5 separate regions of the Homo sapiens genome follow, and regions 1, 2, 4 and 5 are each linked to region 3. The links come from fine-mapping of genetic effects on plasma protein levels. A gene starts in region 3. Each other region holds a variant in brackets. All regions are shown on one strand. Distances are between the middles of the regions.

The links. A credible set is the group of variants that fine-mapping cannot tell apart. PIP is the chance, under the fine-mapping model, that this variant and not a neighbour inherited with it causes the effect. The UK Biobank Pharma Proteomics Project read protein levels with antibody pairs (Olink). The fine-mapping took linkage between variants from a reference panel, not from the people measured, so its PIPs are less certain.
Region 1: its variant is the best candidate, but not a certain one, in a credible set for the plasma level of the CBLN4 protein (UK Biobank, PIP 0.51).
Region 2: its variant is the best candidate, but not a certain one, in a credible set for the plasma level of the CBLN4 protein (UK Biobank, PIP 0.71).
Region 4: its variant is the best candidate, but not a certain one, in a credible set for the plasma level of the CBLN4 protein (UK Biobank, PIP 0.71).
Region 5: its variant is the best candidate, but not a certain one, in a credible set for the plasma level of the CBLN4 protein (UK Biobank, PIP 0.72).

The regions. Positions count from the first base shown.
Region 1 is chr20:55,480,027-55,485,131 of GRCh38, reverse strand. No RefSeq gene overlaps it. Among named protein-coding and RNA genes, the nearest start is that of LINC01441, 55 kb to the right of the region's middle. The variant C/G (reference allele first, on the strand shown) is at 2,400.
Region 2 is chr20:56,176,971-56,182,075 of GRCh38, reverse strand. No RefSeq gene overlaps it. Among named protein-coding and RNA genes, the nearest start is that of MC3R, 69 kb to the left of the region's middle. The variant T/C (reference allele first, on the strand shown) is at 2,755.
Region 3 is chr20:56,002,508-56,007,597 of GRCh38, reverse strand. CBLN4 (cerebellin 4 precursor) reads left to right here and starts at 2,079. Exons shown (of 3, transcript NM_080617.6): 1 at 2,079-3,717. The coding sequence starts at 3,427.
Region 4 is chr20:55,933,665-55,938,769 of GRCh38, reverse strand. No RefSeq gene overlaps it. Among named protein-coding and RNA genes, the nearest start is that of CBLN4, 69 kb to the left of the region's middle. The variant T/A (reference allele first, on the strand shown) is at 2,250.
Region 5 is chr20:55,713,020-55,718,124 of GRCh38, reverse strand. All of the region lies in intron 2 of LOC107984001 (a long non-coding RNA gene), which reads left to right. Among named protein-coding and RNA genes, the nearest start is that of LINC01441, 290 kb to the right of the region's middle. The variant C/T (reference allele first, on the strand shown) is at 3,165.

The DNA.
Region 1 (5,105 bases), 520 kb after region 3:
CTTTAGGACTTGAATGCATTGGTTTTACTGAATATTGTGTGTTAAAATACCTGGTACTAATATGCCTGGTACTAAAAATGTCCATTCTTCCTTTCTTTGCAAATAAAGGTAATAGTTTTCACCATTTCTAATCAGATGTGCTTTTTTTTTTTCCATTTAATAGTAAGGGATGATTTTTTAATGAAATGACTAAAACTCTTTGCCCATGCAATTTACCTAGATAAACGGTTATATTTGGGTACATAGAGAAGCTGAGTAACCATGTTGCCATTAATATCATTTTCTACCAGTGGACTCATTAAGTTTAATGGGGAAAATAGGTAACCAAACTGCAGGTCACACTGTTCCAGCCTGTTTTGTGCAGGGATGTGACCACTGCATGGCCAGATAATTTTCAAGGGAATCTAATTATGTAGATATTTATATGTCTGTGTATTGTTAAATATTGGCCAGAAAAACTTAAAGTAACAACCAACCTTCTGCAGCTGGCTAAAATGTAATAGAAACTGGATTCACTATACCCCCTTGAAACAACAAAAAAAAAAAAAAAAAAAAAAAACCTGGGCAGAGATAATACTTAATGCAATATTTTTCAAAGCATTGGGCATGCTTAACAAATAGTAATCTCCAAAAGGCAGGAACATGGAAAACCCGTTAAAGAAAAAGTGATAAATTTGACTTCAAAATTAAAAACTTCCGCTCTTCAAAAGACTACATGAAGAAAACAAAACGACTGGCACCTATCTGATAAAGTACGTGTGTCCAAAACATATAAAGAACTCTCCAAACTCAGTAAGAAAAGAAAGAACTCGACAGACAAAAGATTTGAACAGATTTCACCAAAGATATACAGATGGTAAATTAGCACATCAAAGGATGTTCAATATTATTATTAATGTGAATTAAAACCCCAATGAGTACCACTACAACCTATTACAATAGTTGAAGTTTAAAAATTGACAATACCAAACAATAAGTATGTGAAGGAATTAGAACACTAATAAAATGGTGATTAGAAATTAGAAGGTCACGACCACTTTGGAAACACAGTTTAACAGTTTCTTAAAAGCCTAAATATACCTATCATACGATCTAGCCATTCTACTCTTAGGTATTTACCTAAGAGAGAAAAATGTACACATTATTCTCTCTTAGGTAATGCTATTCTGTACAGCCTGTGGAACCATAAGCCAATTAAACTTCTTTTCATACAAACATTTGTGCACAAATATTCAGAGAAACAATTTGCAGTAGTCAAGTAATAGAAATAACCCACAAATCCATCAATAGGTATGGTAAACAAATTGTGGTATATCTATACAATGATATACTACTCAGTAATAAACAGAAATGAACTATTAATACCTGCTAAAACCTGATGGATTACAACATAATTATATTCCGTGAAAGAGAACAAAAAATAATACATCCTGTATGATGCAATTTTTATAAACCTTTAGAGAGAACTAACCTACAGTGATAGGAAACAGACTGAGGGTTGCTTAGGTAGGAGAGAGCTAATACAGAGAGGCATGAGGATACATTTGGAGGTGATGGATATGTTCACTATCCTGACTGTGGTGATGATTTTGCAGGCATACACATACACAGAATTCTATCAAATTCTACTTTTTAAATATATCTGGCATTGAATGTTAATTACACCTCAATAAAAAAATGTCATAAAACAGAAACAACATGAGTAAAAAACAAAAACAAAACACCATTCTGGCAAACAGTGATCCCTGGGGCTGTGAGTTTGCAAATTCTGACATCTATGTATATGACTTGCTTTTGGGGTAATACACAAATACATATACTAAAATGCAAAATGGAATGCTTGCTAATTGGAGGCTCTTTTGTTTGATTCTTTCAAGTAACACAGGTATCATTTCTAACTCTGTTGAACGGTCCAGACCAAGGTTCCCCTTTGTGAATGGTGTGATGGCCTCTTTTCAAGGTTTATGATTAAAGTCCAGAATCTCTCAATAGCAAATGATAGCATGCCAGGCAGAATTCGTTTTTCTTTTGATGTTCACACATAATTCCTATTCATAATAGAAGGAATTACGGGTTTAATAGTGTCCCGAATGTCTGCCGATGCAGTCCTTTTTTTAACATGACTTTTCCTTGTAGAAGAGATGCCCTCATTGATATTGTGCTTTTGTTTGCCAAAGGAGCGCAGAAGACATCTTTCTGAAAGATTTCACGACACTTAAAAAAAAAAAATGAAGACTTGCTCAGAGTTTTTTATAAATGTAGCGGTAGAAACTCATTTAAAACAGTAATTTATAATCTATGGATTGAAGGAACTGGACTTGGCAGAGTGTGAACAGAAAATAATTTTATTCTTTTTTTCTTCTGCTCCTTCAAACTCCTCTTCTGTGCTATCCCCTTTT[C/G]TATCCTGGATTAAGTCTTTTGCAAAACACGTCATTTTTTTAATGTTCCTTCAGTTAGAAGAAGAGTCATTTTGGTAAATAAAAAGCTCCATCCGTGCTATAGTAAACCACCAGTCCTTCAGCAATCTTAACTCTTCTCTCTCTCCATTCACTTGTAGACTGGGTTCTTCCTTCTTCCTCAGGGTCCCTTCCTCCTCACCAGCAGCTACGTATGGTTGCTATAGGGTTGGGTGCATGGAGGAGAGAGGAGTAATAAGAAAAATAAAGGTCTTGCCAGAGTGGAACTGTCTTAAATAAGTTTCTACTGCTTATTTAATTTTTTATTCTACCTCATACATTTATAAAAGACACTCTGAGGAGAGTTCATTTTTTTTTTTAAGTATTGTGAAATCTTCAGAAAGGTGTCTTGTGCACTCCTTTGGTGAAGAAAAGCACCATGTCAATGAAGGAACTGTTGTAATCTGGCTTTGGACCATCATCTCATCCGAGTGGAGGACCAATTTCTAGGGTATTCTTAAATCTCTTAGAGGGGTCCTTCTGGAGTGTCCAAACTTGTTCACTTGACAAGAACAATGCCTTCTTTATCATCAACTGGACTTCTTCCTCGGTGGACACTGGTCCTCTTGGCTGGGTCTCTTCTATTTTTTAATTTTAATTTTAATTTTAATTTTTTGAGACAGAGTCTCGCTCTGCTGCCCAGGCTGGAGTGCAGTGGCGCGATCTCGGCTCACTGCAAGCTCCGCCTCCTGGGTTCACGCCATTCTCCTGCCTCATTGGCTGGGTCTCTTCGAAGACAGCCCTGGAACAGCTCCCTTCGGGCATGGCAGGCAATGTCTGGTCCACACTCTCTTGCTCTACATTTAATGAAGGTACAGTCAGCTTGCAATGCACCTTGTTCTCTTTGCTCTATTACCCTCTCCCTTCCTCTTTAGATTCTTCCATTGAACATCAGATACTAACTCCTGTGTTCCCCAAACTTAAGGAGGGCATAGGTCTAGTTCCCAAAATGGTCCTTTTAAGAAAATCTTCGTCTCAGTTGGCTGAAGGTAAAAAAGACGCACCTTATTTTATTTTTCCATTGTGGTGTGCGGTTATAAAATACACAGCACAGCTACTGTTCTCCCTCCAATAGCCTGATCTACCAGCCCTTCATGTAGCTAGAATCTTATGCAAGTAATATGTGAGCAATGAACTACCTCTGGCAGAACCTCCAGGGTCATAATGTCCGCACAGCTGGTGAGAACTTTACTTAGAATAGGATTCCTATCATAAGGACTCCTCTTGTCCTGTTCTAAGCTTTGGAAAACAACCAAAAGGCAGCAGAAGGCAACCTTAGAAGTCATACTTAACTACACAAGTATCCACAGAAAAAGTGGTACAAAAAAGAATAATAGTCACAACTAGTCAGTGTCTTTCTCTTTGCCCTACTCTCCAGTAACCCAATGATGAGATTATACTCCAACTTTCAACTCAAAATTAGTTTTGTGAAAATCTAGTTTATAAGTTTTGAACCTTTTCTTACATTACCATTAATGAAAATTGGTAAAAACATGGCCTGGAATAAATTAAGCTTAGAATTTAAATGAATGTCATCTCATCTTCAGTTGTCAACAACATGCAAGTGAGGTAATTAAATCATCTCAGATTTTCTGTGCTAAAATATCCAAATGTTTAAGAGGAAAGTAGGTGGGTGGTATTGTGCTGTTTTTGTTTAATTTAAATTAAATAATTGGCCAAATTACCATTTCTTAAAAGACTCAGGGAGCTTAATCTGGATTCAATTTTCACTGCCTATTTAATAAGGCACATGTTCCAAGAACACGGGGCTAGACTGGGTACTTGCTGAACTGCCAGCTCTTTATACTAACTGTACTAGTCCATTCTCGCACTGCTATAAAGAAATACCCAAGACTGGGTAATTTATAAAGACAAGAGGCTTAATTGGCTAATGGTTCCACAGGCTGTACAGAAAGCATGGCTGGGGAAGCCTCAGGAAATTTACAATCATGGCAGAAGGCGAATGGTAAGCAGGTACGTCTCGTATGACTGGAGCAGGAGAGAGAGGGGAGCAGTGCCACTTTTAAACAACCAGAACTTCTGAGAACTATATCATGAAACAGCACTACAGGGACAGTGCTAAACCGTTAGCAACTGCCCCCATGATCCAATCACCTCCCACCAGGCCCCACCTCCAACAATGGAGATTACGACTGGACATGAGATTTGGGTGGAGACACAGAGCCAAATCATATTATCACCTTACGATTACATCTCTGTGATACGGTTTGGCTGTGTCCCCACCCAAATCTCATCTTGAATTATAGTTCCCATAATCCCCACATGTCATGGGAGGGACCTGGTGGGAGGTAATTGAATCATGGGGGCAGTTACCCCCATGCTGTTCTTGTGACAGTGAGTTCTCATGAGATCTGATGGTTTTATAAGGGGCTTTCCCCTCTTTGCTCGGCACTCATTCTCTCTCTTGCTGTCCCGTGAAGAGGTGCCTTCTGCCATGATTCTAAGTTTCCTAAGGCCTCCCCAGCCACGCGGAACTGTGAGTCAGTTAAACCTCTTTTCTTTATTAATTACCCAGTCTTCGGCAGTTCTTTATAGCAGTGTGAGAATAGACTAATACAGCTTTTTATTTTTTAAGTGGCATATTCAGGTTAGAGAACTCCTCTCAACAGCTTAGCTGGTGTCTGTCCA
Region 2 (5,105 bases), 170 kb before region 3:
TATTAAACTTCAGTAATGTTTCCAATTTGATAGGTGACATGGTATTTAATTTCTGGTTTCATTTCCTTTTCACTGGTGATGCTGAACATATTTATATATATATTTACTTGGCATTTGAAACTTTTATTTTTGTTTGTGTTCTTATATCCTGTACCAATTTTTAAATCAATTTCCCCATCAATTTTTTCAAAAATGTACCTTCTAAGTTATTTCCAGTAAATCCAAGCACAGAATTTTTATTAGAAGCAGGTACCAAGAAAGCTTTGTTCCCATTGCTCGCACTGGGTGTCAGTGTTCACCTGCTTAGTGACTAGAGAACCATCCTGGGTGAAATGGAAGGAAGTGTGTGACTAAAATTTATAGATGTCACCTGCCTCTCCTTTCACTTGCTTCAGCATATGACACACAAGAAATGACCTCATTCTATAGGCAATCCAATCCCCTGTGCATAAATATATTTCTTAAATGAAACAGATCAAAATTAGGTCAAATGACAGCATGCCCCTCTTGGCCTTTTTAAAAAAGATGCCAGAAAACACACCTTTTATTTTAAACAATGCAGGCAGAGGATTGAAAACCAGCTATGTTTAAAGATCTTCAAACTGATCTGCACATAGAATAAGATCTGCACATAGACTCTTTTGGGCTGGGTGTGGTGGCTCACACCTGTAATCCCAGCATTTTGGGAGGCTGAGGCAGGAGGATCACTTGAGCTCAGGAGTTCAAGACTAGTCTGGGCAACATAGCAAAACCCCCTCTCTATGAAAAATACAAAGATTAGCCAGGTGTGATATCATGTGCCTGTAGTCCCAGCTACTTGGGAGGGTGAGGCAGGAGGATCGCTTGAGCCCAGGAGGTTGAGGCTGCAGTGAGCCGAAATCGCGCCACTGAATCCAGCCTGGGTAACAGAGCGAGACCCTGTCTTAAGAAAACAAAGACTCTTTCGCCTTGGACAACGAAATATTTCCTCTTGATAAGAAATCTGTTGATTCTAAAATATGCATTTGGTTTTGGGTAAGATTGTGGGAGGGGCATACAATCAGATTTTTCTCTTTTCATCTGTAAACTTTCTGTTTTCAACCTGCAGGTTCACTTTTTTCTCCTTTGCTATTTTTTGGTGAAAAAGTCACTAAGTGAGTTATATTTATTAAAACCTAATCCGCTATTTTTTGGTGAAAAGGTCACTAAGTGAGTTATATTTATTAAAACCTAATCCTTCATAGGAACAGATATCTACTTTAAAAAACTTTTTGACTATAATATGCATATCACAGTGCCTAAAGCAAAAGCGCACAGCTCAGATTTTTACATGCTGAAACACCCAAGTAACAAGCATTAATGTCAAGAAACAGAACTTGACACCATTGCCTCTGTTCCATCAACCCAAAGATCTCTTTGCAGTCACTCCTCCCCTAGTCCCACCAAAGGTCACCACGTTCCTCACTTTTGTCTCTGAAGGTGATTAGTTTAGCCTGTCTTTGTACATTATGTTAATGAATACAAACAGCACGGGCTCTTTGAGTCGGCTTCTTTCTCTCAATATTGTTTGTGAGATTCATCTGTATTGTTGAGTATAGTTGTAATTTCTTTTCATTGTGGTATACTATTCCATTGTGTGGATATGCAATGATGTATTTTATCACTGAGGCACAGTCGAGAAGTTTCTAGTTTTTGGTTATTGTAGTACTGCAAAGAATATCCTACTCCATGTCTTTGGGGAAAGTTGCATAGTTCCTGGGTCCTAAGGTAGCACATGCTACCAAAGACAGCTTTCCAAAGCAGTATGAATTGATACCCGCAACATCAGCATTTGAAAGTTCCAGGTGCTCCAAGTTCTCAGTGGCACTTGGCATTTTCTGTCTTTTCCATCGTAATCATTCTGGTGGGAATAACGTGTGAGGTCTGTTTACTAAGGTCAGTTATTTAGTATGGGGGTGTTGAGGTTTCAAAACATGACCCTGGCCTACCTGAGACATCAAAGAAATGCAGCATTTGAAAAAAGAAAGCAGACGTGAAAGAAGCAATGCCTAGAACTTAAAACATTTATTAGCTTTCACACTTCTAGTGAGGAAAAAGTGTAAGTGAAATTTTACTCTGTTGGAAGACATTTTTTAAAGACCCCTCCCCCTCATCCACATTAGTGGGAAAATAAAAAAGAAAGTGTCCTTTGCTTTTTTCTTAATTTTCAAAATGCTAACTGCTGTTTTATTCTGATTATTAAAAACCCATGCCTATTATAAAATGTCAAATAACTTTGGGAGGCCAAGGCGGGTGGATCACGAGGTCAGGAGATTGAGACCACGGTGAAACTCCATCTGTACTAAAAAAAAAAAAATACAAAAAATTAGCTGGGCGTGGTGGCAGGCGCCTGTAGTCCCAGCTACTTGGGAGGCTGAGGCAGAATGGCGTGAACCTGGGAGTCAGAGCTTGCAGTGAGCTGAGATCATGCTGCTGCACTCCAGCCTGGGTGACAGAGCGAGACTCCGTCTCAAAAAAAAAAAAAAAAAAAAAGTCAAATAATATAATACAATAGAACGCGAGAAAACATCTCCTGAAACATCATGGATGGTAATATGACCCAATTGCTGATTGAGTCTCTTTTCCTCTACGCTGTTCTTAAATATAGTTAGGCTCAACAGTTTGACCTTTTCAGGAGAGGAGGGAAATGTGGCCACTTTGCAAAAAAAGGTGGGTGACCCCCGCCAAAGCTTCCCCATCCTGAGAAACAGGGAGGCAGAGGGAGGGGCCCAGTGC[T/C]ACCAGAATGCTCCTGGCTCTGTTTTCCTGAAGTGTGAGCCAGCTGGCAGGGAGAGTTCCAAATTCCTGGTAAGACGAGTCTTCTCCAAAGCCCAGAGTCATCCACAGAGTTATTTCCCCAGAGGAGGTTCCTGCTGCCAGGTAGTACCTGGGGCAGCAGGAACTCGAAACAGTGGCACCTGGAGTGTCTGTGGACTCCCATGGGCAGGTGCCGATGCTCCCTGGGTCTCATTGACTGTGTGGGAACTTCAGCCCACATTCAATGTGCTTAGATTTAGGGACCCGCTTAGCACATGATGGTTGGGTTTTAATACATTCATCAGAAAGTGTGATCTGAAACCACAGCCCCCACTTCACCCACACAAAACCACCGTGAGCCTTCAGGTAAGCACTCTTCCAGGAGTCTCTCTGAGCCTGAGTGCTCACCTGACGTGGCAGAGTTTGGCTCTTTATGCAGGGAAGTGGGGAGTGGCATGGGGGGTGGGAAGTTGCTGACAACTGAGATGGACTGATGAGTACTTTCTCTGATAGGATGAGGGCTGAGTGTGTCAGTGAGGGAGGCAGAATGTGTGGTGTGAAGTGGATTCTGCCTCCAGGAGCTGGCAGTGTCACTGGGGACAGAGGATGTAAAAATGTGAATCAGACTCAGCTTCGTCGTATCAGTGCTGAGAACATCAGGGGATATTTGGTTGTAAGGGCTGGGTTAGTCTAGGAAGGCTTCTTGGAGGAAGTGGACCTTCACGGCTATGAAATCCGATGTCTTAGATACAGTTTGGTGCATGCACCATTGGACCATAGTGGCCACGCAGAGCTGGGCCCACAAACTCCTTGGGTTTGGCTAACTGAGGCTTTTACCACCTACTAAATCACACTGAAACCTGCAGCTTCCTTCACTCCCTGCTAGGTTATTTAAGGGCAGTCAAACTGCATTCCTGCTGCTTGCCACAGTCCCCGACAGGCTCCAGGGGTTAAAAATGCAATTCAAACAAATTTCAAGTCCCTCTGTGGCTCAGTTTAAGCGTAGAGATGGAATTACAGAAACACAGTAGAGACCAAATTAAAAAGAGACTCTACTATGCGTTTCTCTTTTCTAGGACAGAGTAAGTGTTTTAATTTATAGCTCCCAGAAAGACTTCTTGCAGATTCTTTCGTCCACTCCTCACTCCTGTCCTCCCGCATGACTCTCCCGACACTTTCTCCAGGATGAGCCAGTCTTGGTTCTGCTCTTCTCTTTCCCTAAGATGTTCTCAGTTTGGTTCCCAATCCAGTCTTTTTTTTTTTTTTTTTTTTGAGATGGAGTCTTGCTTTGTCACCCATGCTGGAGTGCAGTGGCATGATCTCGGCTCACTGCAACCTCCGCCTCCCGGGTTCAAGCTATTCTCATACCTCAGCCTCCTAAGTAGCTGGATTCACAGGTGCCCGCCACCACGCCTGGCTAATTTTTGTATTTTCAGTAGAGACAGGGCTTCCACATGTTGCCAGGCTGGCCTCGAACTCTTGACTTCAAGTGATCCACCTGCCTTGGCCTCCCAAAGTGCTGTGATTACAGGCACGAGCTACTACACCTGGCCCCAATCTAGTCTTTATTTCCTTTCTTTGGGGTGGGTAGGAGAATAAATAAAATATAAACTGCATTTGGATCTCTTTCAGTATTATTGGAGAGATGCAAATAAATAATGAAACTGGTATTAATCACATTTTGAAGCTAAATGATGCTTCCTGAACTTGATCTTGCACTGACACTGAACCATATGTGCCCCAAGATTTATAAGGTTTATGTAAAAGGCTCGTTTTACAGATTTCCTTCTGAAGTTCCCTGTGATAAATTCTCATCATCTCCTATCACCCCGGATGCTCCCCTGATCCCCTGAAGGGTCGTAGGCATTGTCTCTTAAGGAAAAGGGAGGAAAAAAGGAGCAAGAAGTTGGTTAAATTCTTCTGGATAAGAATCTAATGAGAATATGATTCGATGAGAGCTATATATGGGCACCTCACCCAGTTCATGAACAGATGAAGTGGGGTGCAATTCTGGGGTCCACTGACCCTGTGAGGCCCATCTGTGTGCTACTGGGAGAGTGGGCTGGGGGCTTAGAGGTTCCCACAGACCTCATTTTGGTGTTGCTATGAGCATTTGCACAAGTCTCTTAGATCCTTGCTGGATGGTGAAGTCTATGAGAACAGGCACAGGCTTTTCTTGCTATCTTCTTGTTAGCACAGAGCTCTCTCTAAGCCACTCTCAAGTAATTGATGACTAATTGAATAGGATGAGGAGCAAGGAGAGTAGAGGCCCCCAAATGAGTTGGAAGCTGCGTGCTGCAGATAATTTCTTCCACTTGGGCCATCAGGGAAGG
Region 3 (5,090 bases):
ATTTTGATGTCTCATTAAGATTGCAGAGAGAAAATCTGGCAGCCCCAAGTCATCTGGCCAAGTTGGACCATACAAATCTTGGACTTCTGGTATCAAATGCATTGATGGTCCTAGAACCCAGGGGCTATCCGTGTTTAATCAACTGTTGTGGGAAAAAGAGTCAGGACCCTCTGATTCACAATATAAGATAACTTCTCTTAGCGGGGGTCCACAGAAAATGCTGTGTTCCTTATCTTCAGAACACTTTGAAGAGCAGAACATCCTTTAGTAAGGAACCGAGACCCTTATCCCCAATTATTAAGGAGGCTTTGAATTTAAATTTTACTGAGAGAGACTCATTTAAAGCAGTTTATACTATAATATGAGTGATAATTACCTTCTATTAGGAAGCATTCAGTCATTTCTCAATTATTGAGTCTTTACTATGGTCACTATGCAGATTTTGGGACTAAAAATGAATATTTTTGGTGAGAGAAAGAATAGGTTTCTTCAAATCTCAGTTCTTGCGTGCAGGAAGTGCCTGGAGAAGAAAAGGAGGTAGAGAGAATATATTGGAATTGGTGAGGAAGATAGCTTATTTTCTATTTAACAATTCAACACAGTTTTTTTTTTTTTTTTTTTTTTTTTTTTGTCAAACTTCTCCCAGCCTGAAATTGAACAACCAAAGTTCTAGTTATTGAACAGCTGTCCCAGACAAGGAAGGCAGGGTGCTTACCCCTACAGGAAATAAAAGGAACTAAATTCAACTCAGCACCCACCCTCAAAAGACTGCATCAAATGAGAAGAAATTGCTGCTGTTAACCAGGCAGACATCCCTAAAATCTGGAAGAGAGTTACAAAGTGCAGAGAGGGATCAGGTGAAGATTGTGCTGGGCTTAGGGTGGGGCATCAAAGCTGGGTAAATGGTGGCCATCTTCAGAAGGCACTAGTTCACCTTGTTTGGTTGTAGCTTAGATAGGTAACTTTCAACATTTTAACAAATAGCATGGTACTAGCACCTGCCAGCCGGAACTGACACCGGCCTGTAGTCTCAGCTACTGGGGAGGCTGAGGTAGTAGAATCGCTTGAGCCCAGTAGTTTTGCATCTAGCCTGGGCAATATAGCGAGACCACCCCCCACCACAAGTAAAATAAAATCATAAAGTCAAAACACCTGATACTGGCCCCACTGGAGCAGAATCTGAAGGCCCCTGTGGCACCAAGTATTAACACTTTAGTTGAGAGATTATAGGGAGGTGAGGGTTAGGGGATTCCTCGTAGTGTCTTCAATTTTAACAGTTGGAGCTGGTGCTTATAGCTCAATGCCCGGCCCTTCTGAAGGAAGGGAAAAAGGCTGGAGACGAGGTTCACCTTGTTTTGTGGAGGGCTCGAATGCCACGCTCATGAGGGCGTCCTTCACTCAGGAAGGAATGGGAGCCGTCCATCCCAAGGACCTCCCTCAATAAACATCCCTTCCATTCATAACTAGCCAATGCCATTTTAGGAGCTCCGAATGCCTGGAGGGGATACTGTTTTGGTTAAAGATACCATACGTGTCTGCCCTCTGGCAGCTGGAAGTGTAGAAGAAATTGGGGAAGGGGCGCCATGACCCCACAGCATCACAGAATTGGAAAGCTGGCGGGATGGGGGTGGGGAGGACCTTAGTTAACGCCGCGCCCCCCTCTCAGAGAGGGTTAGTGACTCGGCCAAGTTCACGCAGCCGGGTCCAGACAGAGACAAACCTCCCTTCCCCGTGGTAGCTGCAGAAGAGGAAGGGAACTCTTGCAAATCAGAGGCCAAGATAGCAGTGGAGTGGCACGGGGGCGGAAAGCGCATCCAAAGGGGAGAAAAATGCTGTATTCCTAGGAGTGGGATTGTCTTTTATTTTTATTTTTATTTTTATTTTTTTATTGTTGTTGGCACGGTTTCGGAGGACTTATTCTTGCTGAGTTAACTCCCTCTCCCACTCTTTTTTTTGGCCATGCCTGGGGAGGATTCGCGGTGTGGGGGGAAGGCGCGCCCCTGCGGCTTCTGAGGCTCATCTTCCCGGAGCGGAAGGAAGGAATCAGGCACCTCCTCCCAGCCGCCCCCACGGGCTCTGGTCCGCCCCAAGGCTTCCCTGAGCTCGCCAGGCCCCAGGGCTGTGTGGGGCGGGCTCCCGGCCAGGCGCGGTCGGGACGCCCGCCGGTCCCCAGGTTCGGGGCAGCGCGCAGCGCGGGTCCGCGGCGGCTTATCCTTTTTCGCGACCCGGCCTGGCAGCGCCGCGCTCCGCTTGGAGGGCACTCGGCGGCAGAGTTCCGCGCTGGGAGGGGTGAGGGGACCAGCCGCCTCCTCTGCGGACTCAGATCGAGCAGGAGAGAGTGGGCGCGGAGCTGGGGCCAGCGCAGGGCCGTGGGCTCCTCTCTGGGCACGCATCCTTTACGCCACGGGCTTTCAGGGGCTGAGGGGCCTCGAACCTTGCCAATCACCAGTGCTGTGCGCCCCGCTTGCTTTGGGGTGCGTTAAACGTCAGGAGAGAGCTGCTCAGATGGGGTCACCAGACGCCTTCTCCCCCTTTTCTCGGAGCCCGCGGGTTGCGCGATAAGCCAACCCAGCCGGACGCTGCGCTCCTATAAATAGAGCGCGTGTGCCCGCTTCGCGCTCTCCGGGCTGCACGAGGGACGAGAAAGTTGTGCGCAGGGACTGGGGGCGGGCGGCCAGGCAGGAGAGGACCCCGCCGGACCAGCCGCCCTGAACGCTGCGCCCGGCGCCCTGGACCTGATCCTGCGAATCCGCGCTTTCGGTGCGAGGGACCTGGCTAGCCGCTGCCTCCCTCCCTACCTCTGGGTGACACCAGGTTTGGGGGATTTTTTTGACCAGGCGAAAGTGGGAGTCGCTGGCGTCCTGGCCATGAACACAGCCTCGCGTTCTTCTCAGCCTGGGAAGGACCTTCTGCCTCTGTAACTCGTCCCTGCCGCAAGCCAGACAGGACTGGCACCCGCGCCGCTGGGCACCCGCCACCCTTGTGGCTTCTCTTTGAGTCCCCTCTTTTTGTTCCTGCTCCGTGGTTTAGCTGGTGGTGCTTGAGTTTGGGGTGAGAATTTATTATTATTATTATTTTTTGCCTTGAGGTGTGAATGTGAGGGTTTGATGACTTTCAGATGTCTAGGAACCAGAGTGGGTGCAGGGGCCCCAGGCAGGGCTGATTCTTGGGCGGAGGAGAGTAGGGTAAAGGGTGCTGCATGAGCTCCTTAAAGGACAAAGGTAACAGAGCCAGCGAGAGAGCTCGAGGGGAGACTTTGACTTCAAGCCACAGAATTGGTGGAAGTGTGCGCGCCGCCGCCGCCGTCGCTCCTGCAGCGCTGTCGACCTAGCCGCTAGCATCTTCCCGAGCACCGGGATCCCGGGGTAGGAGGCGACGCGGGCGAGCACCAGCGCCAGCCGGCTGCGGCTGCCCACACGGCTCACCATGGGCTCCGGGCGCCGGGCGCTGTCCGCGGTGCCGGCCGTGCTGCTGGTCCTCACGCTGCCGGGGCTGCCCGTCTGGGCACAGAACGACACGGAGCCCATCGTGCTGGAGGGCAAGTGTCTGGTGGTGTGCGACTCGAACCCGGCCACGGACTCCAAGGGCTCCTCTTCCTCCCCGCTGGGGATATCGGTCCGGGCGGCCAACTCCAAGGTCGCCTTCTCGGCGGTGCGGAGCACCAACCACGAGCCATCCGAGATGAGCAACAAGACGCGCATCATTTACTTCGATCAGGTCAGACCCGGGGGGAAGCGAGCACCTAGGGGGTGGGCGGTCTCCAGGCACCTCAGCACGAGGCTGCCTGCCCAGGCTAAGCTGGTCCGATTGGGAAATGGGGAATCATGTAAAGCACTCGCCTTCCCAAATATGCCTGGGTCTGAAACTTCTACCGTCCCTCTTCCTACCCCTCTCACCAGCCCCGGCTCCCATTTCTTCCGGGCCCCTAAAAGAGGCTGCTGCGGCGGCGGGGGAGAGGCTTGGGAGCCCAGAGCCCGGCAGCGAGAGCTCAGGGCAAGTTTCGAGCAACAGGTCGGCGGGAGCCGAAGGGCACCTGGTCCCTGGACGTCGTTATCTCTTGGCCAGATCTTGGTGCCCTTGCTCAGACTCCTCTGCGGGTGCCGCTGAGGCTGCTCCCTGGGTACCTTTGCGGAACAGGATAAATGTTTGATTTGTTTCTCCCAGGTAGAGAAGCTTCTCTCCCAAGAGAGCCCCGGGCTTCCACACTCTTCAGAGATCGGGCAGGTGGCCGCGGAGGGCGGGGGCAGAGCCGGGGGTCAGATCTCGCCTGCAGGTTCCACTGTTCGTGTGCCAGGCACCGCTGGCACTGCCGCTGCCTCGGAGTAGGCAGCAAGCCCTTCTCCGGTACTTAGAGAAAAGTTGCGGAGGAGGGGAGGAAAAGGAATTTGGCAACTGCGCTGAGCTCCTGTAGGAAAGCGCTTGGGAGCCAGTTCTCCCTTCCCGGGCTCATGTCCTTTCAGAGAATTGCAAATAGCTGGGGAAAGACAGACTTTGAGGTTGATGAGAGTAGGGGAAGAGCTGACGGAAGCTGTAGCTGCTGTTTAGCGACCTGGTGCTCCGTGTTTGGCTTGATGAGAAACCCCAGGATATCAGCTTACCTTTAGCAAGGGGTCTTAAGGGAGAAAACTGTCCTCAGAGTTTTTAATTTCAGCCCCAACAGTATCCAGAGTCTTTTTAAATTCCAAATTCACAGTTCACAGTTGTATGCAAAGCTGCAATGTGCAGGGGGCACAGGTTAAGTGGTGTTGCAGGATGTGCCAGGGAAAGCACGAGGTGACATCTGTATTCCTTGCTTAATTTTTCCTAACTAATGCACTCTCCAGCTGGCCAAAGACAGAGAATGCCTCTCTAGGGGCTTAGTATTTGATAGACATAATTTTTAAAGAATTAAGTAGCTCCATTTGGGGTTTTGGTGCAGTATTTTCCATCTTGATGGAAATAAAGTCTAGCACCACCCCTAGTTTGTATTTCAATGCTTTAATTAAATGTTGGAATACTGTGGGCATTGCACTATCCTCTATACAGGGTGTTCCTTTCAATGACCTTTCCATCAATTAGAAGAGGAAAAGGGTTTGTTCTTCTTTTCAGTG
Region 4 (5,105 bases), 69 kb after region 3:
AAAATTTAAAAAAAAAAGGTAGTTTGTTACAGTCCTCATGCAAGGGGCATGTCATGCCATGGGGGGCCTTGTGGGGGAGCACTAGGGCTGATCAGAGGCAGAGGGAGAAGAAAACGGTGGGTAGAGCCTTTGTTGTGGTTTCCATGGGAAGCAACAGGGAAGGCAGGGTCAGCAGGCTCAGGATTGGCTAATTTGAATAATTTCAGCAGACCCTGGGCATGGAGGCTGTCTTTAGCTGTCTGGTACCTGGCTCTGGGGTAATTAGGGGAGGTGAATAGTGGCCTGAATGGTGTGATCCTGATAAGAGGGATGACAGGAGTGTGAACTCTGAACTGGTGGGTTTGCATTTGAAAACATGCCCCAGGAGGAGGACTCCTCCCAAGGAGGGGAGGTGTTGATGATGAGGGAGGTAGGAGACCAAGGCGAGGTGACTTGGGCATATCACCTTATTGTCCAGAACGAGTGGTGTCAGCATATGCACATAGGGCAGATGTTAAAGCACGGAGCTTACAAAAGCTAGAAACATAGTTAGGAAAGCCCTGAAGAAGAGATGTATAAAGGGGTAAAACAGTGGAGTGGGGAGCAAAAGGAGGAAACGTGGAAGAACAGAGTCATGGACTTGACTCTTCTAGCCTATCCATGGGATTGTGTGCTTTCATTTTGCTTTACCAAGACCCAATCTCCTATTTATAAAGGCGGGACATTTTACTAAACCAATATTTACCAAGATAGGGGACATATCACTAGTGCTGCATTAGATGGCTTCAGGCAAAAAACAGACATACCATTAAATAACATTACATCATACAAGGTCATTTACCTTCCAGTTTCTTTCAGTCTTTCTAATTGCCCCATGGGGACAGTCTCAATTTAGCACTGCTCTGCTGTTAACAGCTCTTTAACACTTGCTACTTTCATTTCAACAAAAAATAGATCTCAGGCTCAGATACTTTGACAGGCTTCCGGTGGCTCCAGGCATTCCTTGGCTTGTAGGTACATCCCTCCTATCTCTGCGTTTCTCTTCACATGGTCTGCTCTGTGCATCTGAGTGTCCTCCTGTCTTCTAAGGATTGGATTTAGAGCCCACAACAAATTCAGCATTTCATCTTGGGATCCTGAACTGATTATATCCGCAAAAGCCCTATTTCTAAGTAAGGTCACATTATGAGGTTCTGAGTGACCCTAAGTTTTGCAGGGACACTACATCAACAACCAAGGAAAGCCAGGAATCTGATAAATTAAGCAAGAAATGTCATGAGACGGGCCTGCATGGGCACTGTGGGTGGCAGCTGGCAGTGCACCACACACTGCAGTGTGGGCGTCTCAGAAATTCATCCTTTTGTCTTTGGTTCTTTCCTTGCAAGGCTATGAGCCAGAATACAGGGTCACTTAGAGTTAGATGGGGAGCAGAAATCTGTATCCCCCTTCAGCATACATTTGAAAAATCAAGACCCTGCCCTGTAATTTGGACTTCCTCATAAAGGAAGGATTTTCAGAAGTTTCAGTATTAGGGTTCTCTAAAGGGACAGAACTAATAAGACGTATGTATATATAAAGGGGAGTTTATTAGGAGAATTGACACACATGATCACAAGGTGAAATCCCATAATAGTCCATTTGCAAGCTAAGGAGCAAGGAAGCCAATCCAAGTCCCAAAACCTCAAAAGTGGGGAAGCTGACAGTGCAGCCTTCAGTCTGTGGACAAAGGTCCAAGAGTCCCAAAGCTGAAGAACCTGGAGTCCAGTATTCGAGGGCAAGAAGCATCCAGCATGGGAGAAAGATGGAGGCCAGAAGACTAAACCAGTCTAGTCTTTCCAGGTTCTTCTGTCTGCTTTTATTCTGGCCGCACTGGCAGCTGATTAGACGGTGCCCACCCAGATTGAGGGTGGGTCTGCCTTTCCCAGTCCACTGACTCGAATGTTAATCTCCTTTGGCAACACCCTCACAGACACACCCAGGAACAATACTTTGCATCCTTCAATCCAATCAAGTTGACACTGGATATTGAACAACAGAGAAGTCAAGCATGCAAAAAATGACAAATGTGTACAACAGCTAGTAATCAGCTAGCTTTAATATCTTTTTCCTCATTAGCTGTATTTTTACCATTGTATTTTATTCATGTGATACTGTTTTTTCACTTACGGTACTACTTTGTAAATTAAATTTATTTTGGTAAAAAGCAGTACTGTTTTACAAATAGATACGAAGTTGACAACAGTATAGAGATGCTACGTTGCTACAGCCAG[T/A]TATGTAGTGATACTCAGATATTATAAAATTCACAAAGGTTTTGGGGGAGGGAGGAATGTCCACAGTCCAAGCTTAACTGGAGTATTTCCAGCCCAGACATTTCCAGACCTTATGATTCTTTGCACTCACAGCTATTTGTTTAGAAAGACTTAGATATCATGAGCCTTGGGGTTATATATCTATAACTCAGCATTTCACAAAGAACTGAGAACAGACAATTCATAAGCTTCAGAGGTTTCAGCAAAGCACTGCAATGCTTGTGTGTTTTAGGTGAGTTTTCCAGTCAGTGCTATTTTAACAAATACCAGGAACTCTATTTGGACTGGCTCCTATATCTTCAACAACCTACTGGGCATTGTCACCTGTATATCTTGCTGTTACCTCAAATTTAGCAGGTGGAGAAACAAATTCATCATTATGCCCCCAAACTTGTATCTACTCCTGACTTCTCTGACATACACGCTCAGCCTGCCAAGCCTGCAGCCTTGGAGAATTTCTGACTCACTCTTCTCTGGCATCTCCTAAATGTATCCACTCACTGCATCTTATTGAATTCCCCCTGGAGGGTTTCTTGTATCTTTCCTTTCCTTTCAGCTGTTACTGTCTTATTCTAGGCATGTACCTGTTCTTTTTCTCTAGCTGGGGTCTCTAATCCTCCCTTCACGTTACTGCAATGTACCTTCAGTTTGGTTACAGCTGTCTCTTGTCTGTTATCAGTAGTGCCAAGAGGTAGCTGGGGTGAAATTTAGCCCTTGATAATTTCTAACAGCCCCACAATCCTAAATAAGCAAAAGATCTCGTCCAAAGAGTGTCCTTGCTCAAGAACTCAGGAGCTCAAGAACAGTTCTCTTGCACAATCTTCCAAAAATATCATCACTCTTCCAGTTTTCCTACATGGATGTTTTGGAGCCAGCCTTGCCTCTTAGTGTTCTTTGAGTATACCACACTTAGGGCTTTCTCTTTCCATCCCAATTTTCTTCCCCTTTCCATTTGGAGTTCCCTTCTATTTCTTGATCTTTGTCCTTAATAATCACATGAAGGCCTAGTATAAAAAGAACATTAGCTGTGAACTCAGAAGAAATAGGAACATTTTGAACTTCGCTCTCATTGCCATTTGTTCCTGGAGAGTATTTTTAAGACAGAAAATTTTGAGTGGCTAAACATTTGCATTTTTTGTTTATTTTTTCCCATTCCTTCCCAGTTAATTTGCATTAGGATGCATCTGTTAAGCAAACATACCCAAAGCCCAGGACTAGTTACAGCCCTTGGTAAACAAGGTAGGAAAGGCAGAGAACATCTGTTTGCCTCTAGCTGGTAAGATTTCTGAGGTTTGGTGTGGGACACCAGCTGTCTTGCAATGTCCCGATTTATCACTGCTTATGGAAAGATGCTAATGCTCCAAAATTGACTAGAGCTGGCAAGGATAAGATGGGAGGAGACAGCACTTTGGACCAAGGGCAGAGATGGTAGCTGCAGCCTGTTTCTTAGGAGAAGGTTCCGTCCCTCTCTTCAGCCTCAAAAAGATACAGTGCATCAGGGCCTGTGTTGGGAAGGGGAAGAACATACAGGCATGGACTTGGGAGTTTGGAAACTAAGATCTCTGTGATTGTGTCTCATATTAATTCTGAGTTGACCTGGGGAATTTCTGGCACTCCTCGTTATGGGATACACTGGAAAGATAATAAAATATCCTGCTATTTGGCAGGTAAATGGGCTCCCTTTTATTAACATTACTTCGGGAACCTAAGGACCATCACTCTAGGTGTTTTCAAGCACTTTTAACTAATTCCGACCTGTCTTAGGTTGGTATACATTTAACCTTCTCCATGACGACCTCTCTGGATATTCCAGAATTCATTGTTTCTTACTTCTCCAACTTCTGTAACTTTACCCCTCTTATTCATAAGTAAACCATTTGGCTGGCCTATCCCACCAGAAGTTCCTCTGGTCAACTCGACGTGACCAAAAACATATAATTTAGTACTTAAATCGAGTACTCAAATGTACTGGCTTATGTTGTTAGTTTCATTTTCTCACTGTGCAGAGTTTGGTCTCTTCAAATAAAATACAACTTCTTTAAGGGCAAAGATGATGGCATTTGATCCCATGCCTTTTACAAAATACTCCCTACTTCTTAGCGAAGTGTTGAGTACATAGCACAGAACTCAATAAATACATTTCTAATTCATTTATCCTACAAATAATTTTTTCTGTCTCAATTATATCTTAGCCATTAAGGTCAGTGCTGGGTCTACAACCATAAACAAGACAGAGAAGATTCCTGCTGTCATGGAGGACAAGAATAACAAGCAAGAGCACACATGAATCATGTAATTAAAGTTTGTGATTTTCACTCTAAAGAAAATAGAGTGGCTGTTCCAGCCAGGCGGGGTGGCTCATGCCTGTAATCCCAGCACTTTGGGAGGCCGAGGCTGGCAGATCACGAGGTCAGAAATCAAGACCACCCTGGTCAACATGGTGAAACCTTGTCTCTACTTAAAAAAAAACACAAAAAATTGGCTGGGCGTGGTGGTGCCTGCCTATACTCCCAGCTACTCAGGAGGCTGAGGCAGGGGAATCACTTGAACCTGGGAGGTAGAGGTTGCAGTGAGCCAAGATAACGCCACTGCACTCCAGCCTGGTGACAGAGCAAAACTCTGTCTAAAAAAAAAAAAGAAAGAAAATAGAGTGGCTGTTTCAATAGGCAGGGCCTGGATTAGAGGGTGCGGCAAAGTAAGGCACTGCATGGAGGTGGTATTGGAGAAAAGACCTGAAGGGTGAAAAAGACAGAAATGCAAAATTCCAGGGCAAAGAAAATGTCTTAGGAAAGAGGTTGTTTCCTAGGGCACAATGGA
Region 5 (5,105 bases), 290 kb after region 3:
TGCTACACACTTGTAAACAACCAGATCTCGTGAGAACTCACTATCATGAGAACAGAAAGGGGGAAATCCACCCCTGTGATCCAATCACCTCCCATCAGGCCCCTCCTCCAACACTGGGGATTACAACTTGGCATGAGATTTGGGTAGGGACACAGAGCCAAATGATATCAAACACATTACAGCTCAACTTCTCTCTCTGCTCAATCCTGTCTCCTACATTTCTTAGATGGGTGTTGCTCTCAAGGACTTGATGTGAGCAAATCTCCATCTCAGTCTGTTTCTCCACAAACCTGTTGAAAGGCAGGCATGCTACCCACACAGTTCCACAAGGCCTGATCCCTGATAGCCATTTTGACTTTATCACTCATTGGCCTGCTTGCCTTTTGTCAAATATGATAGGCTTTTTATCTCTCCTGCACACTCCACTTGGGGTTCCCTGTTCTACTCCATGGGTTCTGTCCCCAGACTGTTGCATGTCAGACTCAGGTCTCAGCTCAAATCTCATCTCCTCAATGAGGTCTTTCCTTGCCTGATTCTGTCCAGATAGTCACTGTTCCCTTTCTCTATTGCACTCTTCGTTGATTTTCCCTATATCCTCGTCACTAACTGCAACTATATTATTCATTTATTTCCTTTCCTTTTTTTTTTTTTTTTTTTTTTTTGAGATGGAGTCTCATCCTCTCACCCAGGCTGGAGTGCAGTGGCACAATCTCAGCTCATTGCAACCTCTGCCTCTTGAGTTCAAGTGACTCTCCTTCCTCAGCCTCCCGAGTAGCTGGCACTATAGGCATGGACCATCATCGTGCCTGGCTAATTTTTGTATTTTTAGTAGAAACAGGGTTTTGCCATGTTGGCCAGGCTGGTCTTGAACTCCTGAGCTCAATGATCCAGCAACCTCAGCCTCCCAAAGTGCTGGGATTATAGGCATGAGCCACCACACACAGCTTACTTACTTACTTTCTGATTGACTTTCTCTTTCTCTGGAAGGTTAAGTTCTTTCTGGAGTAAAATCTTATTTGTCTTCTTCACTCCTGAATCTCCAATACCTAGAATAGTATCTGTCACATAGTAAGCACTCATAATACTGGTTGAAGGAGTAAATTTTTAAAAAGGCAAAGAAAACAATAAATTACACTACCTATTTACTTAGCTTACAATTTTGCCTTATTTCTTAGGGAATATCCTTTCCAATTCCTTCTTATCTCTCACTGTTTTCTGCCTCCATAACTTCCATTTTCTGAGAGTTTAATAGAACATACTGTCTACAAGTATTGTTAAAATTAACTTTAATAATAAACAATAGCATTATTGTCTGTATTTCCTAGACACTTCATTAGCTGCTTTATTAACATGTAATCCTCACCCTTTGAGATAACTATTACTATTATTATTCTGCTTTTGTAGATGAGGAAACTGAAATTGAAAGAAGTTTCACAACTTGACCAAGATTATACAGCTTTTAAGTGGCAGCAGAGCTGAGACATAAACCCAGCTTTTCTTTTAAGGAGCTCATTATATGATTTCTAAGTTGATGCAATAAAAAAGCACATTCCATATTTAGATCCAAAGACCTGAAATATACCACTCTTGGGGCATGTAGTTTTGAACTTAGCCCCCTCGGACTCAGCTTTCTCAATACTAATTGGGGCTTAGATTAAACCTTGTTGCTGATATAAATTAAGTGATAATGTATATAGATACCTGGCCTGTGGAAGAAAATAAAAAAGTTCACTCCTCTTTGATATATGACACTATAATCACAGTACTACTTAGAATACCTAGACTACTTAGAATCTAGGGACATTTTCCGTTCTGCTTGTCAAAACTCTACATATTGTAGGAATGTCAATAACATGTGTATTCAACCATGTATATTGAACTACTCATATATATTTGAGGGAGTAGCATTAGAGGTAAGATCACAGGCTCTAGGGTGAGACAGAAGTAGAAGAGAATCTCATCCTTGTTGCTTTAAACCTATCTCCTCCTTCTGCCTCATGCCCTCCCACTTGCCTTGGCAGAGGGGTGTAAACCATGTATTTAATCTCTTGAATTCTACATTTCCTCATCTGTAAAATGGATTAAAATAAAAATTAAAATATTATCTGCCTAGCACTTAAGATTGGACCTTTGACAAGCTATTATTATTAATAGAAATAATAGTTGTGAATATTATTTGGTTATATTTCACAATAGAATATGTTTTTAAGTGGCCTTCTCATTATTATGGACACAAAACTATGACATCTCTAGAGTGAAAGAGATAGACAATGTGAACACCTTGAAAACAGGTCCACGGGCCTAAACTCAAACCCCAGCCCTATACCCCACTTTGTAGCCAAGGCTTAGAGCAATGCCAGGTCCACTGAGTGGCTTAAGAAACACATGTTAGATGCTGAATCTGGCATAGGACCTGCCCACATCAGACTCCCTGGGAAGCTTTTAAAACGATGGATGTTTAGGGTTACTCTTGGTGATTATGATTTGAGATCCCAGGACACCGCATATAGAAAGAAAACAAACAAGAACACCACAATTGATTCTGAGGCTCAGCTAGACTTGGAAACCACCTGTGATTCAACCACACTTGTGACACATGAATACCTTACCCTCTACCACTGCTGAGTGAACTCCCACAGTGACCGTGCACCCCACAGTGATGCCAATCTTATGCCCTTCACAGGGGCCTCTCCGCATGCTTATCCACTTTTTCTGGCTATTTCAGGTGGCCATATAGGTTGCATCCAATTTAGTGAGATCTTGGTGAACTAATCTATTTTAATAGTAAATAAAAGCTATACTTATTGTCTTAGAATTCTAGAATAATAGCATTGAAGGTGACCTTCATGATCTTTTTAGCTTCCAGATGAAGCCTACTTTCAAAAGATAGGATTCATCCACTTCCCCCCACACACCTACCCCTCCAGCTCTTGCCCATGAACTCACAGAGAAAATAAACCTGTTTTTTTTTTTTTTTTGAGAAATTGGAGCAATTCAGATTCTTATTCTAGTTACTGTCGCAGTAAGCAGAGTGTCTCCTGATTCATAAATTTCTCAGAATGCATTCCCAAACAGGAATTTGGATGTGAAATTATGAGAAAAAGTTCCCTGGCTTTTCTTTAATCTGGAAGAAAAATGACCGAGATTTAAGAGTAATTTTTTGC[C/T]GTATTTGCCTTTGATATAAAATACTCTTCTGCCTTCTTTTTATCTGAGAAATGGCCTTGGATGGAATTCTTCTCTTATTTTGGAGAAGTTCTTGCTGACACATTCGGGAAGGCCAGGCAAACAACTCGCTAGCACAGTTGGCAAGGATAGTACATCTCCTTCCACTTAACGTAATCACACCTCATTATATACAATTACTTCTTTCTACAGGAAAATTTCCTTGAAAGGTTAAAAAGTTGATCGCCGAAACTGGAGATTTCAGATTTTTCTTGTGTGGACAATGTGTAAATATAATAATTTGGTGAACCATATTTAGTTCAACATGTTTTATCCAAATAGACATTCCCTTCTGGCCTTCAAAAATATTTGATTTCTCACCAAATAACCATAATCAAGATTAACCTAAGTGAATGAATCCAAAAATGGAACCACATTTTCATATTTTAAAAAACCTACATTCTTTCTCTGTTATTTTGATCAGCCTGTGGTCTTGGTGCCTAGGTTCATTTGATTGTGATAAAGAAATAAAAGGAATTGATGAAACTCACTTGAAAAACTTTGGTATCAAATTGCACTGGGTAAAAGTAAGATAAGGGAGGAAAATTGCAAAGCAACAATTAAGCTGTCAAGACAACATTTTCCTGATTTTTGTTCATCCTATTCCCTGTCCTTTCCTTCTGTCAATCTCTCACTCAGAGATGTCTTTGCTTTTGTGATTGTGAAGTAGATGGAATAGTCTGTGAGGTCTTAGCAACAACTTCCTGTTGCAGAGAAAAAGTCAGAAGCCTTACAATGGCTGACAGCTCTTCCCCACCCATTTCCTGGCATCCCCTCTGTCTGGCTTATTTTTGCCAACTGCCTTTCTACTCCTTTATTCTATTCCAGCCATGCTGGTCTTCTTACTGTCCCTATAACATACCCGTCAGTTTCCTTTTAAAAAGCCATTGCTTTATTTTCTCTGGAATGCTGTATCCATGAGTCTCATTTCTTTCCTGTGTTGTCTTCACTAGTACTTCTTTCCTTAGCCTATTTTTCTGTCTTCCACAAAGGGAAAGAAAGCAGATCGGTCATTGCTTATTCTGTTGTCATCTACTACTGATAGCTCCTAGATTTCTTGTACTTCCAAATGATGTTCAGAAAAAGCTGTGTAAATAGAAACAACTTTGTGTTTAGATTTATTGGTGATTACTTCCTGTCACCATCACCACCAAATTAATTTTTAATTTTACAATATGCCAGAAAATAGGCAAAATAAATAATTGGGAGGAACACTGGGTTACAAAACAGGAGACTTTTGTAGGACATCCCAGGTTCTAACTATGTATTCTAAAATAATAGGGTTGCAGGTGACCTTTTTGACAATTTTAGGTTCAGATGAAGCTTTCTGCATGATGCATTCTAGAAGTTAATGTGTGGCATTTACCAAAGATTCCCATATATGGAAGAGACTTTAAAAGTCATATTATCCAATGCTTCCTTTACTACATACTCATCCAATTCCTCACTGCATAAACGAGTTCTATAAAGTCATTGCCAATTGTTTCTTCTCTTCTCAATTCTTCCAGGATTGGGGAGTCCATTATCACTTATTCAATTAATTTATCACATGTCTATTGAGTGCCTACTGCGTCCCTGGTTTTGTGTTATGTGCTGGGTACACAAAGAGAAATAGGACACAGTGAATGAATTTTACCTATAAGGATGGCACAGCAGACCGGATTATAGGAGAGTTTTAATTTAGTCTAAACCAAACACCAGATGGGCACTGTCAGGCTTTCTGTCAAAGTGAAACAAGAAATTGAGATTTTTAGATTATGTATGGCTGGGTATAAGCAACTTCATATGATTCAACCTGCTAGAGTAGCTCAAATACTTACTCCAAGCCTTAAAGACATCAAAATTCCTGCCTAGATATCTTTGAACTTTATCATAAATGGAGA